Linked DNA regions of Homo sapiens: all the other regions are linked to region 3. Evidence: fine-mapped expression QTL. A gene starts in region 3. Each other region holds a variant in brackets. All regions are shown on one strand. Distances are between the middles of the regions. Region 1 has its middle 29 kb from the start of JDP2-AS1. Region 2 overlaps JDP2 (Jun dimerization protein 2). Region 3 holds the start of JDP2 (Jun dimerization protein 2).

Region 1 (5,222 bases), 29 kb before region 3:
TTTTACAACTGTAAAATAGAGCTGTTGAGAGGACTGAATGAAGTAACGTGTTGGCTGTGATTAGGACAGATGATGGGGATGACGGTGATGCTGACCATGTCCTTTGGCATAAGGCACATCAGTGATTGCCCCCAGGTTGTTGATGGATACTTCTGATGCTACCCACCCAGCTCATAGGTAGCATGGGAAGTCACCCAAAGAGATGAGTCTCCGACAGCCTGTGTAAAGTATGTGACCTTGCCACCTGGTTTCCATAAACCAAGGTGAACAGTTGCCCAAGGCTTGGTCAATCAGATTATTAGAATTTTGATGACCAAGAGATAGCCAGTTGGTTTGATATGGTGCCCTGAGTGGAAGAGATACAAATGAGGAAGTGTTGGGCCAGGCACAGTGGCTCGCACCTGTAATCCCAGCACTTTGGGAGGCCGAGGTGGGTGGATCACTTGAGCCCAGGAGTTAGAGATCAGTCTGGCCAATATGGCGAAACCCCGTCTCTACTAAAAATACAAAAAAATTAGCCAGGCTTGGTGGCGCGTGCCTGAGTCCCAGCTCCTTAGGAAGCTGAGGCACGAGAATTGCTTGAACCCAGGAGGCAGAGGTTGCAGTCAGCCAAGATGGCGCCACTGCACTCCACATTCCAGCCTGGGCGACAGAGCAAGACTCTGTCTTAAAAAAAAAAAAAAAAGAAAGAAAGTGCATGTGTGAGTGTGTAGGTGGGGTGAGGTTGGGGGACTGAGAAGAAAAGCAGCTTGGTTTGCAGAGAGGAGAAAAAAACAGAGCTGCAGATTCAAAATGCAGAGATACTGCCTGGTTCCCAGTGCCTTTCCAGTTCTTGGGCTTCTATTCCTGGAGAAAGCCTGCTGGCCCTGGCTTCCATGGATATCCCAGGATTCTTCCAGGAAGCTTTCTTTGGTATTGCCTGAACAAGTTCAAGATGGCTTCTGCTGACTAAGGCATGGGTTAACACAGCCCTATCGGAAAATCTTCACGGAGAACTGCACCCCAAGCAGGTGGACATTCTCCTTTTTCTCCTTCAGATCAATGGACAATTTGAAAGTGTATGTATTGTATTTCTCCTGGAGGTCCAAATACAAAACCCCTCTCTGAAGCCTTTCAAGAAGGCTTGGTATGGCTGAAATGTGGTTCTCTGCTGCTGATAAAAGTGATCATGTACCTGTGGGTGGTCTGCTGCCTTAGCTAGGTACTGAAGCCTGGATCCCAGAGACATTCCTTTCAGACTTCCTGAGCACCTCCTGATTCCTGTTCTCATTCCTTCTGGGCTGACCCATGCTCTGTGCTGAGCTTTATACCTATTCTGGTTGCAGATAAGGTAATTTAACAAATAAGGTGAGAGATTCCAGTGAGCAAAAGACAGACAGACAGACAGACAGAGCCAGAGGCAGAGTTAGAGTCTAGACCTTGGTGGGTGAGTGTGAGCTCAGTTTCTAATCATCTCTCAGCTTTACATGGCTCAGTAATCTGATATTATCAGTTCAGACAGAGGGGACAAGGCCCAGGGAAGCACTGTCCAACAGAAATATAGTGTGAGCCATAAATGTAACTTAAAATTTTCTAGTAGTAACATTTTAAAAAGTAAAAAGCATATGTTAACCCAATATAGCTAAACCATTATTATTTCAACATGTAATTAATATAATTTTTTTAAGAGAGACAGAGTCTTGCTCTGTTGCCCAGGCTGGAGTACAGTGGCGTGATCATAGCTCATTGCAGCCTCAACCTCCTGGCTTCAGGTGATCCTCCCACCTCAGTCTCCCAAGTACCTTGGACTATGGGTACACATCACTGTGCCAGCTAATTTTTTTTTTTAGAAATGGTATCTTGTTATGTTGCCCAACTTTAAGAGACAAGCGAGACGTCATCTCTAAAAAAAAAAAAAAAAAAAAAAGAGAGAGAGAGAGAGAGAAATGCATTTCTCTTATGTAAATGCTTAGGTAGGTCTTGAGGGCTACTGATATGGCTCTTTGTGCAATATTTAACCCAAGTTCCTTCTATCTGTTGGTCCACCATGCATGGGCTATATTTCCAAATTCCACAACAGTCCAAGATGACTGCTCCAGCTCCAGCCAGTGCGACCACCTTCCAGCCTGCAGAAAAGGAAAAGGGAAGAAGGACACACTACCACCTTTTCATGGCACTTCCAAAAAGTTACACACATATTACTTTTATTTACATCCATTTGTCGGGATTTAGTCATATGGCCCTATCTAGCTGCAAGGGAGGCTGAGAAATGTACTCTGTGTTCTAGGTGACCAAGTCGCTGGCTAAAATTCAGGGATTCTGTGACTAAGGAAGAAAATAGCGAGGAAGCAACTGATAGTGTTGGTCTCAGAGACCAAACCATGCTAATGAAATGCAGATTCTCTGGTAAACCAGAAGGCCAAGTTATTCAAGAACAGTAAGACTATAATTGTCAGCCAGATGAGAGTGCCTGAGTTGGCTGACCATTTCAATCTCTTCCCAGTAGGCTAGTCTAAATGGTTAGAAGATTAATGGATCGGACTATGAGAGCCTGATAGGTCCCTTTCCATTTCAGGACCTACAAACCTGCCAGGAGAACTAAAACATTCCTGCCAGCCTGGGAGGGAGCCCTTTTTCTGGGATGATGCTAGAGATGCTTGGACAAACTCTGGCCCCTCAACATTTCTTTACCTGAACCCATCCTAGCTTTATACACTACAATTCTACTTATATTTGTTACATTTTAGATGTTGGGAAGAGATTTTGAAGACATACTAGCTCTTTGTTGTGAACTTGGGATTTGCTATTGTCTCATCAGCAGTGTTCATTAACTTGATAAACATTTATTGAGCACCTACTTTTTGCCAGGTATTGCATTATGCTAGGAGTGAATAAGAACCTGTCCTTAAGTTGACTGCAGTATCTAAAGAATAGGGAAAGTGATGGGCAAGCATTTGAGAAATGAGTAGGCATTCACTGAGCAAGAGGAATGAAAAGCCATCCCAGGTGAAGGGAAGGCATGTGCAAAGGCTTGGGAGACACCAAAGAACATGACGTGTTTGGGAAAAAGAAGTAGCTGGGTGGGGCTTGTCGGGAGGAGATGCTGGAAGGGTGGCCTCTTCAGCATCCATTC[T/C]CTCTCAGTAACTACCCCATTTTCCTTGGGGTATCCACCCTCCCTACACTTCCCATATTTTTTGGAGGAAGTCGACTCCACCCTGGCCTAGGCTTGGGGTAAATAGCCCCAGTATAGACTAATCAGCAAAATCCCTTCTTGCCTGCAGATGGGCAAATGACCCAATTCTGACCTGAGAGACTGGAGAAGACTTTGCTGGCAGGTTCAGGGAAAGAAGCTCTCTCCCTTTCTCCTTCTATACAGCATGGAGCATAGGTGTGAAAACAGGAATTGTGGCAGCCGTTTTCTCACCATGAGAAAAGCCTGCCTGAGCATGAAGACAACACCATGGAGGGCAGAGAGGAAAACACCAAGAAGAAGAAGGGGTTTTGATGACATTGTGGTGCTATTGAGTCAAACCTACACTGAAGCCTCCTTGAGCCCTCGGCTTTAGGCAGCTTGGGGCTGCAATGTGAAGGACCTTGGGGCTTAGCTTTTATTCTGGGGCAATGGGAAACAATAGACAGCTTCAAGGAGGGGGGCAAGCCCACTGGACCTGAATTGTAGGAAGTTGTCTGCAGTGCTGAGTGCAAAGAGCCTGGGCCAAAGCCAGAAATGAGGACCTGAGCCAAGACAGGAGAAGAGGAAAGAGTCTGAGAGCCACTTGGGTGACAGAAGCCAGACTAACTGGATTAAGAGGGCATGAGGAAGAGGGTGTGTGCTTTAGGAAGAGGCTAAAACTCTTAGCCTGACTACATGAATGGAGAAACTCCCCTTCCCCCTTCTTTTGCCTCTATCACTGTCCCCCTGGGAAATCATGTCCACTGCCAAACCCTGTATTCTCCTCTTCTGCAGATTCATGCCTCTGATTACAATTCTTTATGGGCATGCCTGGTCCTTTGGAGCAGGGACCATGCCTCGTCATCTTCACATCCCCAGGGACTAGCCTGGCACATGGTTGGCACCGGGTCAAGGCTGACTTGGATTGAGTTCTCGCTGAGCTAGGCATGAGCTGCACCCTCCCCCTGCCCCCAGGGCTTAGTCATCTGTTTCATAAGCAGCTTCCAAAAGCTGCAGCCCCAATACCCAGCTTCCTTGTTGTTGGCAGGTGTTGGCAGCCCTGAGTGCCAGAACGCCAGGGAGCCAGCCACTGGGAACATGCTAGGGTGGTGAGCAGGAGCCAACTAATCAGGGCTCATATACATTTACGAGAGGCGTGTGTGTGCTCCCCAGGAGAGCTGTAACGACACTCCCTTTCCAGGAAACACAAACCAGGCCTCTTTCCTTTCTTTTTTCTCACCTGTCCTGTCTTGTGGCCAGAAGCACATTCATTGGCTTTCCATGCTTCTAAAATAAATCAAATTGGGGGCCACACCCTTCCAAGCTACTTTAGGTTTGCTCCGTGGAAGCTTTAACCCCTTATCATCCCACCAGGCCTGAAATGCTTGGGTTCCAATTTACAAAAATATTAACTTTTTATGTCCTTTCAGAAGAAGGATCTCAGTTTTCCTGATGTCTGCTCCCCTGCCCTGGAATTTCTCCCTCTGCTCATAATTCATCCCAAGGATGTTGACTTCTGTGTTTTGGGATGGTCAGGGGCTAAGTGGCATGGAGGGCAAATAGATTAACCTTTTACCAACTTTCCAAAGCCCTTCCTCCTTGTTCTTTTTTGTTTTTGTTTTTTTGAGATGGAGTCTCACTCTGTCACCCAGGCTGGAGTGCAGCAGCATGATCTCATCTCATTGCAACTTCCGCCTCCCAGGTTCAAGTGATTCTCCTGCCTCAGCCTCCTGAGTAGCTGGGACTACAGGCGCATGCCACCACGCCCAGATAATTTCTGTATTTTTAGTAGAGATGGGGTTTTGCCATGTTGGCCAGGCTGGTCTCAAACTCCTGACCTCATGATCCACCCACCTCGGCCTACCAAAGTGCTGAGATTACAGGCGTGAGCCACTGCGCCTGGCCCTTCCTTGTTCTTTTTATCTCGGCCTCCTCTGGGCTTTTGGAAGGCCTCTTCTTTCTCTAACCCCAAGGTTTTCCTCATTACTCCTCCAAGATTTCAAGGTTTTCCTCTTGTCAGTTTCGTTATGGAAACTCCTGGTTCCCCGCTAGCCTGCGCTCCTCAGTAGGG
Region 2 (5,222 bases), 43 kb after region 3:
AGTTAGCCAGGGGCTCAGTAGCAGGGTCTGTGCTTCTTCCTGCAGAAAACAGGCCAGTGCCAGCCCAGCGTGCCCTGTGCCTAACCACAGGCAGAGCCTCTCCCCAGAGCCAGTCCCCGTGAAACTCACAGCGTGCTTCTGTGTTGGTATACAGGAATCCGAGCGGCTGGAACTCATGAACGCAGAGCTGAAGACCCAGATTGAGGAGCTGAAGCAGGAGCGGCAGCAGCTCATCCTGATGCTGAACCGACACCGCCCCACCTGCATCGTCCGGACCGACAGTGTCAAGACCCCCGAGTCAGAAGGCAACCCACTGCTCGAGCAGCTCGAGAAGAAGTGACCATGGGCTGGGAGGAGGTGGAGGAGGAGGAAGAGGAGAAGGAAAAGTGACGAAGAGAGAGGAGGAGGGGGGCCCCAGATGGCCCTTCCTTTGGTGCATGAAAAACTGTACAATGAGGTTCAGCACAGCCAGCATCAGCCGAGCTTTTTTGTGAAACTCAGATCAGCCACCCAGGAGGAAGAGCGGGCTGAGGAAACCCAGAGGGACCAAGCGCTGAGACCAAAGTTGACCCTCGGGTAGGGTTGTCCTGCCTGGGGCCCCACTTGAAGGAGGCAGGACAGAGGCACCGAGGCCAGGGAGACGCCCAACGAGGCAGCCCTGGGCTCTTCTCTGGCCTCTTCACCAGGGCACCCATCCAAGGAACCTCCGAACAGCCAGGAAAAGCCATGAGTTGCAACCAAAACGCGGCTGAGGATGGAACTCAGAATGAAACTGCAACCCACCTGCCCCCAGCCCTGCCCCTCGCCCTGATGCGAAGCTGGAGAGGGGCGTGCTGCGGGGCCCTGATGCCCCCACCCACCTCGGTCCAGCGCGGCCCTGCCCAGGAGGCGGCAGCCGGGCGCACCCTCGCCAGCCCTGCTGGAGTTTGCTGTGGGCACTGAGGCGCGGGCGCCCTTCCAAAGCACATACTCACCGAATGTTTACAGACTGGCTGTCCTGGCAGGGCTTTCAACTGCACATGTTTTTTATACTTTCCTTTTTTTTTTTTTTTTTAATATTTTTTACAAAAAAAAAGATTTTATACAAGCAATATATATATGGATTTCTATAATCACTCGATGTGATACAGTATAAATATGCTATGGTTTGTTTGTTATGAACAGATAGCCACCAGTTACGGCCGTTGTGTGTAACTCCTAAGTACTGTAGTCTCTGGGTGTCGGGGGTGGCCAGGGCGGGGGCGGGGTGCATTTCCATCCTTGTAAACCCTTCATAGTACTCAGTCCTGTATCGCTCAGTAAACATTGCTCTTACTTACATAGCCGCCTTGCGTGGTGTCTGCCTGGGGAATGGGTGCAAGGCCCTCTCAGGGTCGGAGACTGTTTGGAGCCTCTGCTATAGGCCTGTTCATTTTCACAACAGCTCTCCTATTTCACAGATGAGGAAGCTAAGGCTCAGAGACATTAAGCCACCTGCAGTTACTATTTTGAGAGCAGTCAGAGTGTTCGCTCACTCTGCAGATGTTTTCTGAGGGCCTGTTGTGTGTGCCAGGCCCTGAGAATTCACTGGAGGATGAAACAGACCTAAGTCTTGCCCTTGTGGGGCCTCCAGTAAGGAGTGAATCCTGTGCTTGCTCCATAAGTTGTCTCATTTCGTCTTCATGGCAGCCTTGCCAGGGAACAGCACTTGTCCCCAATTCACAGATGGCGAATTAGAGGTCCAGGGAATTAAACTCGCAGACACCATTTGTTGAAGACTTATTTTGTGACAAGCAGACATAGTCTCTTCCCTTCTCACAAGAGCACAAACTAGGCACGATTCTTCTCATTTTACAGATGGTTTAACTGAGGCTCAGAGAAGGTAAGCGACTTATCCAAGGTAACCCAGCTAGCAAGGGATAGAGCTGGTGTTTGAACTCTCCCTCCAGAGGCCTGTGACTCTCCTCCTGTCACCAACCCACTATGATTGTCCTCATGGTTGAATAGGAAGCTTATGAGGCCACAGTTATAGATTTAGTTTCTGGGAAGGCTGGATAGAGTTCCAGGTTGTCCCATGATCACAGAGTGAACCAACTACCCTGGTCAATGTGTGTCTGACCCAGGGAAGGGTGTGGATGGCTTCTCT[G/A]CCCCCTCACCTCGACAGCTGAATCCCTGCCACCCAGGGCCGGAGCAGCTCAGTGGCATTCACTCAGTGCCTGCTGTGTACCTGGCACTCGGCAGTTCTCAAGGCATGTCACGCATGAGGAAGGCGGGAGAGGTGTTTTTAGCTTCCTTGTATACTGAAGCTTGCAAAGGCTACAGTTTACCCAACTAAACTTGACTCCTGCATTCTAATCATGTGTTCTTTCTCCTCCATCCCTGGACTTAGGATAACTAGTTGCTGGTGATGACTTCGTGTCAAGAACAGCAGTGAACCTGGGTTGCTTCCCAAATTGTGGACGAGGCCTTCTGGGATGGGCAGAAGTGGAGAATGGTGATTAACACACCTGTGATCCCTCCCTCGCTCACTCCTCTCAGTTTCCCTCCACCCAACACACTTGGTGTGGACTCCCCTGCACCCCGCCCTAGAAACAGGACCTGGTCCTCTCACTGTCAGCTGTGGCAGAAGGTTGTGGCAGCGGGTTGCCTTCTGTCTCGGGGGTCTTGAGGCTGTCGGTCCGGACGATGCAGGTGAGGCAGTGTCAGTTCTGCATCAGGAACCCCTCGCGCTGTAATCCTTTGATATTTTTCAAGCCATGAGAAAAATGAAGTGGACTTACCAGGGTCCCTCCAGTGACCTAGTGGATGTTCTTACAGGACTGCCGTGTGCCACTGGCTGTGGCTTCCCTGGTCCTGTGCTTGGCCACCGGGAGCTGGCATCTCCAAAATAGAGCCTCCTTAGCCTGTGCAGGTGGGCTGTCTTCCAAAGTCACCACACCAGTGACTTGTGCTGTGCGGAGCCTTCCTCACCAGGACCACTGGCTGCTCCTGTGGCTAGAAGTCACAATTATAGGCTTCATTGCAAGAGCCAGCATTTGAGTTTCTTCTGGGCACCTGCCACTGTGCATGTGTGACCTCAACTGCTTTGTGCACCCTGACTGGGGGGTAGGTGCTAGCGTTCCAACATTACAGATGAGAAAACCGAGGCACACAGAAGAGGTAACCTGCCCAAGGTCACAGGTGTTAGGTGGCAGAGCCAAGATGTTATTGTCAGTCTGACTTCAGGTGCATAAAACCTGAGGCTGAGCCTCCCCATGAGAGGAAAAATGTGTTTGTGGTGTGACCTCAGTTGCCAGGGAACTTGTGCAGGAAGCCGGGAGAGATGGCACAGACCCACCTGTGCTCACAGTACATGTTAAGAATTCCCAAGTCTCAGGCAAACCATCTCCAAGGGTGTTCACAGAAGACACACCTTAAAGGCAAACGGGTTCATGATGTAATCTTCTATTGACTAGCTGTGAACCTCATTTTTCTTATCTGTGAAGTGGGAACAGTAATAATCCAAGTCTTTTTATGGAGTTATCAAGATCAAAAAAGGAATGGATATACAAAGTGTTTTGTGAAATAAAAGCTCCCTAAAATGGTAATTATTTTGTCCTCTGTTAGTGTCGGTAGTTATTGATATCTACATAGTACAGGTTATTTAAATATGTTTTATTCTGTAAAGATGGGCTGCCAAGTTTGTGTTCTGACCCTGTACGTGGTCCCTATGGTGTGATGAATGCCTGGGATCGCAGACTCCTGGATCTGTTCAGCTCCTGACTGGTCACAACCAGCCATGCTGGATGCATCATTCCCTCCCTGGGCCTCAGTGTGCCCTCCTGCCAGGTGGTCACACATAAGACCTGTGCCACCTCTGCCCAGGGTTCCTATGAGAATCAATCGAGTTGATGAATGCAACCATGGCCTGAGAAAGACAAGACGCTTTAGCTATCAGATGGGCAGAAACAAGTATGTGTTGGTAAGAATATGGATTAAAGGTTGGGAGGCCAAGATGGGTGGATCATGAGGTCAGAAGATTGAGACCACCCTGGATAACACGGTGAAACCCTGTCTCTACTAATAATACAAAAAATTAGCCGGGCATGGTGGCACGTGCCTGTAGTCCCAGCTACTCGGGAGGCTGAGGCAGGAGAATCACTTGGACCTGGGAGGTGGAGGTTGCAGTGAGCCAAGATTGCGCCACTGCACTCCAGCCTGGGTGACAGAGCGAGACTCCATCTCAAAAAAAACAAAACAAAAAAAATGTGGATTAAAGGAAACTTAGATATGCTGCCAGTGAGAAACTGTGCAAAGCAATTTGGAAATAACCAGTAAAACTAAAGCTAAACGCATCCTTTGACCTAGCAGTTTTCCTCCTAGTCTTGGGAGGAACTCTAGCACAGGGGCAAAAGGAAATGTACAAGAATGTTCACTGATGGCTTTGTTTGTATTTTTAAAAAGTTGAAAACAACCTAAATGATGATCAGCATAAGAACAAATAAATTGTGGTATTTTCCTAAAATTGAATATTACTCAACAGGTAAAAAAGAATGAACCAGAGCTATATGTATCAATATGGATAAATCTCAGAAACCTACTGTTGAGATGGAGGGTAGGGGAGTGAACTGCGGAAGGATACCACTTATGTCATATTTCTAACTAAATGTATACGTTGATACTTTATTGTTTATGGCTACACACACATCTGGGTAATAGAGGTATAAAAGCCTGCACAAGAATGCTGTCAATATCACAATCAGTCATAGGGAGTGCTCCTGGGAGGGCCGCGGAGAGGAGGGAACTAGGGATGCCACTGCAAGGGTAAGTAGGACGCTGGACTTCAACTTCAACTATACACATAACATTTCATTTATTTTTTTAAAATCCCCATCAAATGTAGAATGACAGGATTTTTCAGAGGTGGGTGATGTGTGCACAGATGTGGGCTATCTTCTCCACACTCCTCTGTATATTTGATATTCTTTGCAATAAAAGAGAACAAGCCACAATACAAATAGGAGGTTTTGTTTTTATTATTGCCTTAGCAAACTCAGGAAATAAAAACAAATCTGAAATTACAATGGGATTGCAGCATATGCTCTTTGAATTTATGCAAATTTAATTATATGCCTGAAGGGAGAGAGAGAGACAATTCAAAGGGTGGAAAGAGGTTAGCTGGTTGAGCCCTGCGGGAGGGTGCCCCGGGGTGAGGACACCTTGAGGAATGTTGTTCTGCTCTACACTCAGTGGATCCTGGTCCC
Region 3 (5,222 bases):
TCCTCCCATTAGCTTCACTCTCAGTAGTTCCCTTTCACGTGGGGCTTCTGGCAGCTTCTCTTTCCAGCAGATCCACAAAATTCCCAGTCTTGTGAGATTTTCTTGGGATATGTGACGATCTCTCAATCAGCCCATTGACTAGGGCTGGGCGTGTTAATCAGGACTTTTCTAGTTGTGATAGGAAACTTAAATTCAAACTGCCTTAGGCTGAGTCACTTGTCTGTCCCTAAGAGCCAGTGGTAAATCAGCTCCATCCAGCATCCAATGTCTGCATAAAGGACCCAGTTTATGGCTTCTCCCTCTAGCCACTCCCAGAGGCAGTGACTACGTAGAGGGGCCTAGTAGGGAGTATGTGGCGGAAGGGAGGCCTTGAAGCTGTGTTCTTATAGCGTCCTATATGAAACTGAAAAGCATCAATAGCAAATAACAGAGAAGATCTAATGGAGATTATAGAGAGGTAGAGGGGACTAAAGGCCTCCCAAGTCACCCCTTGGTGCCACCCCTGTAACATATTTAATTTGTGGGGGAAGCAAAGGCCCAGTAGGACTGCTGGTGGCCCAGCCACAGTCCAAAACAGGCCCTAGAGAGGACGCGCTCTAACCACACACCCTAATTATTAGTCCCTGAATATAGATCAGTTTAGTTTATCCAAAGCCCCAGCTGAAGACACATCAAGTACTATTGCCTCTGTTCCATGTTTTGTTCCATATAAACATCCAGACACAGGTCTCATGGGAGAAACATCATGAGGCAGTTTCACAGTCCCTGGCTTTGATCTTTACGCTGTAGTAAAGGTGTCATTGGCCTTTCTGGGGCGAAGAGTCATGCTCTTCCACAAGAGTATCAAATTACTGCTCATTTTCCAATGTATATTCTTTCAGGGCCTTGCTTTCTTCTTACCTGCCCACACCAATGCTGTGAGGGAGACTGCTGATGGCGAAGGTGAAAATGGTCAGGCAATGTCATTGGGACTTGGTCTGTCTCTCCTTCCATTAGCCCACTTCTTTTATCCAGAAAGATTTCACTGCACTGGGGAAATAAGGAGAATAAAGTCTCATGCACTCACTCACATGAGAGAGACATGCATGTTCGGGTTTGCTCAATGGCACCCATCTGTCTCAAGTCTTGTTGTTTCTTTCACTCTGAGCATCTGCACTCCAAGAAGGCATGAACTTTTTCTTTCACTTCCTTTCTTCTATGGGTGATGACCTGACATCACTCTCAGAAGGAGGCCGAAAGTCGCTGAGTATAAAAATCGTCACTCCTATCTGGCTTAGGCAGAAGGTAGGGGGCTCGATGGGTACCCAGGAGCTCTGGAGGTAGGAGATGCCATCTAGGGAACCCCGTTCTACCTGAGGGCTCTGTGTCTCTGCCTTTGTATACTGGAGGGCACCATGGATGTCGCCTTCCCTCTGGAGTCCCCTTCACCATTTCCTCTCTAGAAGGATGGAAGGTGGGAGTGGGGTTGGCTATTGAAGCTGGAACGGGGAAGAAGGCCACTTGGGGTCTGCTGAGGGCTGGGTCTGCTCACTGCTGTGTCCGGAGTGGAAAGGAGAAGCCCGCTGGAGCAGGGTACAAGCCCAAGGGTCAAACTGCGCCAGCAGTAGAGCAAGCCGCGGTCTCAGGCTGCAGCCCTAGCAGAGGTCAGGCTGGTGCAGCCAGCCGTCTCGGGGCCTAAGGGCGCTGGCGGGGGCCGGTGGGTAGGGGTAGGAGTCCCCAAATGCCTTCATCTCAGCCCATCCTTCTCCACCGAAAAATAAAGCAGGCTGGCGAGATCGCCTCCTCACCCGCTCAGTCCTGAAGTGTCCAAGGATGAAACTGTGCGGAAATTCTCCCTGTCGCTCTCAGTTTGTGGGGGAAGCGCCGGGACTGAGGTACATGGTTAACACAGGCTGTGCGTGAAGGGGCTTTTGACTTTTCCCCCGGCTCCGGCCTCTCGCGTCTCTCTCCTAGGGCTGCGGCTGCTGCTGCCTGGCGGGCACAAGCCGGGCGGCGGTGCGCGGGGGGTGCGCTTACATAACCGCTCGCCGCGTCCTGCTTTCTCGAGCGCTCCTGCACCGTGGGGTGGCGGAGCCGGGGGACTGCATGGAACCCGGGACGCCCCCGCGGGGAGAGGAGCGCGAGCGGCCGCGGGAGGAGGGCGCCCAAGGCGGCGGGGGAGGTTAAGGTCAGTGGGTGTGAAGCGCCGGCTCCACACCCCCTCCTCCCCGGTCCCCTCCTTCCCTTCCTCTCCGTCCCCCTCTGACGTCTGGAGCTGGCAGCTCGGCCGGTTCCGCATTCCCGACCCCTCCCCGCCGCCCAGGGGCCGCTATATAGCCGGGGCTGATGCAACCCGTCCCGCCGCCCGCCACAGCCTGCGGGAGGGACGCTCGGCGGCCGCGACGGGGGGCGCTGGCGGCGGCGGACGCTGCAGCGGCGGCGGGGCTGGCGCCGCGGCGGCTCCCGGGCCGGGACAGGCCTGGGCACCGGGCGGAGCTCCGCGGCCGGGCGGCAGCGGCGCGGAGCGGGCACGGCGCCTGCAGCCGGGCCCCGGCCCCGGGGGCGCCGCCTCCCCCCGCACCTTCTGCACGGTGGGTGCGAGGGCGCGCGCTGGGGGCGCCGGGACGGGCGGGGCGGGGCAGGGCGCGGCGCGGGCACCTGGGACGGCCGCCCCCGCACGGGCGGAGCGCGAGGAGCCCCAGCCCAGCCCCGCGGGGAGGCTCCCGCAGCCCAGGGACCTCGAGCTTTCCCCGCGCCGGGCGCTGCAGCCGGGCCCCTCCCGCGAGGCGCCCGGCAGCCTGAGGCTTCCTTTTGGTTCCCGCCCCGGGACGGGAGGCTCCGTCCGCTCCCTGGACAGCCGGGGTGCTCCCTCCTTCTCCCTCCCGCGCTCTCCTCCCCCGTCCGTTTGCAGGGAGGTGCTCTCCTCGGGCGGCGGGGAAGGCGGGGTGAGTGGGGAGAAAAGTGCCCGCGGAGATGGGCTGTGCGGGTGGAGGTGGAGGGTGAAGGGCCAGGGAGGTGCGGGGTTGGGGTCGGGGTTAGATTGTGGAGGGATGACAAGGACCTCCTGGCAGTGAGGAAGCGCGACTCCCGGAGGACCCGGACCCGGAGGAGAGTATTGAGAAGGGCTCGGGATTTCCATCCAATGAAGGCAGCTTCTCTCATGGCCATTGCTTCGGAGCTCTGGGCTGGGAGGGGATCTAGGGGTGGCCGGGGTCCCCTTTGGGCTCTCCTGTCTCCCACGCCAGGTTATATAAGGAGGCAAGCAGGCTCCTGTAGGTAACCAGCCTCTCCCTTGCCCAGCCCAGCTTAGAAGGCTCTCCTCTGCTCCTCCCTTCAAAGGAGGTTGTCGAGGGGTAGGGGTGCAGTGGGGGGTGGGAGAGTGTAGGGGTGGATTGGGCCTTCCACCTGGATCCCTGGACCCTGGGATGGCAGAGCCAGGCTTTGCCTGGGTCAGTAGGAGGAGCAGGGAAGATGAGGAGGCTGGGGAAGATGGGGAGGTCCTGGCTCTTTTGCAGGGATGGAGAGGCTGGTGGAAGGAGAAATCAGCCGACCCCCTTGGGTCATCTCCAGTTGCAAGATGGCGTGGCCCTTGCCCAGGGTGCTGCCCTCCCTGTTGGAATCCAGGGCATGGGGCTATGGCCCGACCACGTGTGCTCAGGGCAAATGTGCTCAGGTCTATATCTCAGAAAGGGCTTGCAGCCTGCTTAGGCGTGTGTACCCAGGCTTAAATCTTGGTGGTCTCTCCCTAGGGTCTTAATTGGAGGAGCATCAGGAATTGGGAAGCTTTGAACCATGTTTGGGTACATTTGTACCCAAACGTCCTTTAAGCCCTTGGTAGAAACTGCATTCGCGTATCATCTCCCTTCCCCCCAACCTTCCTTCCCTGAGGGTTTTAAAAAACACTTCCCATTGCTTTTACCTTTCCAGCAAATCTGGCTGCAGCTTGGATGGATAGCTTATCTTCCTTTGCAGGTTTCTAGGGGAGAGTTTAACCAGGTATCAGGTGTGAGCATGGCTCTGATTTTGTATAAACCTGAGGATCGAGGAAGAGAAGCAAAATCTATTCTCACACCTCTGGGTGGTTAAGGTTTTGCCTTGTTTAGAGCAGGGAGGATGGATTTCTCAAAGACTCTTCTGTTCCCTTCTACTTTGGCTTTGGTTCAGAGCTGCAGGCAGCTCCAGAATCTTCCTGAAGAGCTGGGTGCTGTGTGATTTGAAGGGCTGCAGGAAGTCATGGGTGTGTAGACCTCTGGCTTTTCTCCTAGGTGGGCTGCAGGAAGTCATGGGTGTGTAGACCTCTGGCTTTTCTCCTAGGTTGGCTGCAGCCACCTCCAAGGAGATGTGTTGCAAAGTGGTGACAATGCCCCCTAGGAAGGGTTTGGATAAGGGTCTCCCCACTCATCCACTGCCTAACTTTTGCAGCTACCAGGGAATGCTCCTCCTGACTCCCTGGGTTTGTTGTCATCTCCCTACCTGTTTGTAGGATGTGTGGGCATTTTTTTCCAACCTGCAGAATCCCTGGCAGGAATAGGCTCTCTGGGCCTTGTTTGTCGTGGGGCTACTGGTGTTGCAATGGGCTGTCTCTCTCGAGTGTCTGTTTCCAGCTCCACTCTGGAAAGAAAGGGGCCAACGCCGACTCTAGGCCGGCCTGCTCTGTATTCATTCAGCTCCAGCTCAACTTGAGCAATCAGAGCCAGGGTTGAGGGCAAGCTACATTCTTTTCTGCCTTTCTGCTGCAGGATGCAGTTTGCTTTTTTTCCATGCGAATGAATTATGTTTGAAACCGAAATGGGAGGAAGAGAAAAATGGAGTGAGTGTATATGGGTATGTGTGTGTGCATACCTATATAGGCAGGGGAGGGCAGCAGGCACATTATTTTTCCATTTTCCTTTAATTAAGGCTCTGTGGAGGTGTGTTTGAAAACAGAGGGTCTCCTATGCCTTTGAGGAGGGTGAGAACACTGTTTTGGCTGCGTCCCGGGCCATATGCAGCGTATGGTGGCCAATGAAACCGGGCCTGGCTCATTCTGTTGCTTGTCTTGGCAGTCGGTTCCGTGGCTTGTATTACCAGCTCTGGAACTTAGGGGCTGCCAAGCTCCATGTGCCTGTGTATGTGTGTGTGCGTGTGCATGTGTGTGCACATGCGTTCTTGTGTGTGTGTGTGGTTTGGCCTCTCGGAACTCAGCAGAGACAAATGCCTTAGCGACCCAGTCTTGGAATTTTCAGACTGTGTTTCTTTACTTA

What was found. PIP is the estimated chance that this variant, and not a neighbour inherited with it, causes the effect.
Region 1: its variant is fine-mapped to the expression of JDP2 in blood mononuclear cells (TOPMed, PIP above 0.99). The same link has a PIP of 0.9 or more in whole blood.
Region 2: its variant is fine-mapped to the expression of JDP2 in whole blood (TOPMed, PIP above 0.99).

What each region holds. Positions count from the first base shown.
Region 1 is chr14:75,396,304-75,401,525 of GRCh38, forward strand. No RefSeq gene overlaps it. Among named protein-coding and RNA genes, the nearest start is that of JDP2-AS1, 29 kb to the right of the region's middle. The variant T/C (reference allele first, on the strand shown) is at 3,113.
Region 2 is chr14:75,469,136-75,474,357 of GRCh38, forward strand. It overlaps JDP2 (Jun dimerization protein 2), which reads left to right. Exons shown (of 4, transcript NM_001135048.2): 4 at 155-4,972. The coding sequence ends at 340. Among named protein-coding and RNA genes, the nearest start is that of JDP2, 44 kb to the left of the region's middle. RefSeq lists an enhancer at 5,179-5,222. The variant G/A (reference allele first, on the strand shown) is at 2,126.
Region 3 is chr14:75,425,683-75,430,904 of GRCh38, forward strand. JDP2 (Jun dimerization protein 2) reads left to right here and starts at 2,340. Exons shown (of 4, transcript NM_001135048.2): 1 at 2,340-2,570. JDP2-AS1 (JDP2 antisense RNA 1) reads right to left here and starts at 1,973. Exons shown (of 2, transcript NR_184172.1): 1 at 1,788-1,973; 2 at 1-1,029. RefSeq lists enhancers at 1,109-1,208, 1,459-1,788, 1,809-1,868, 1,836-2,393 and silencers at 2,059-2,328, 2,579-2,758, 2,819-2,988.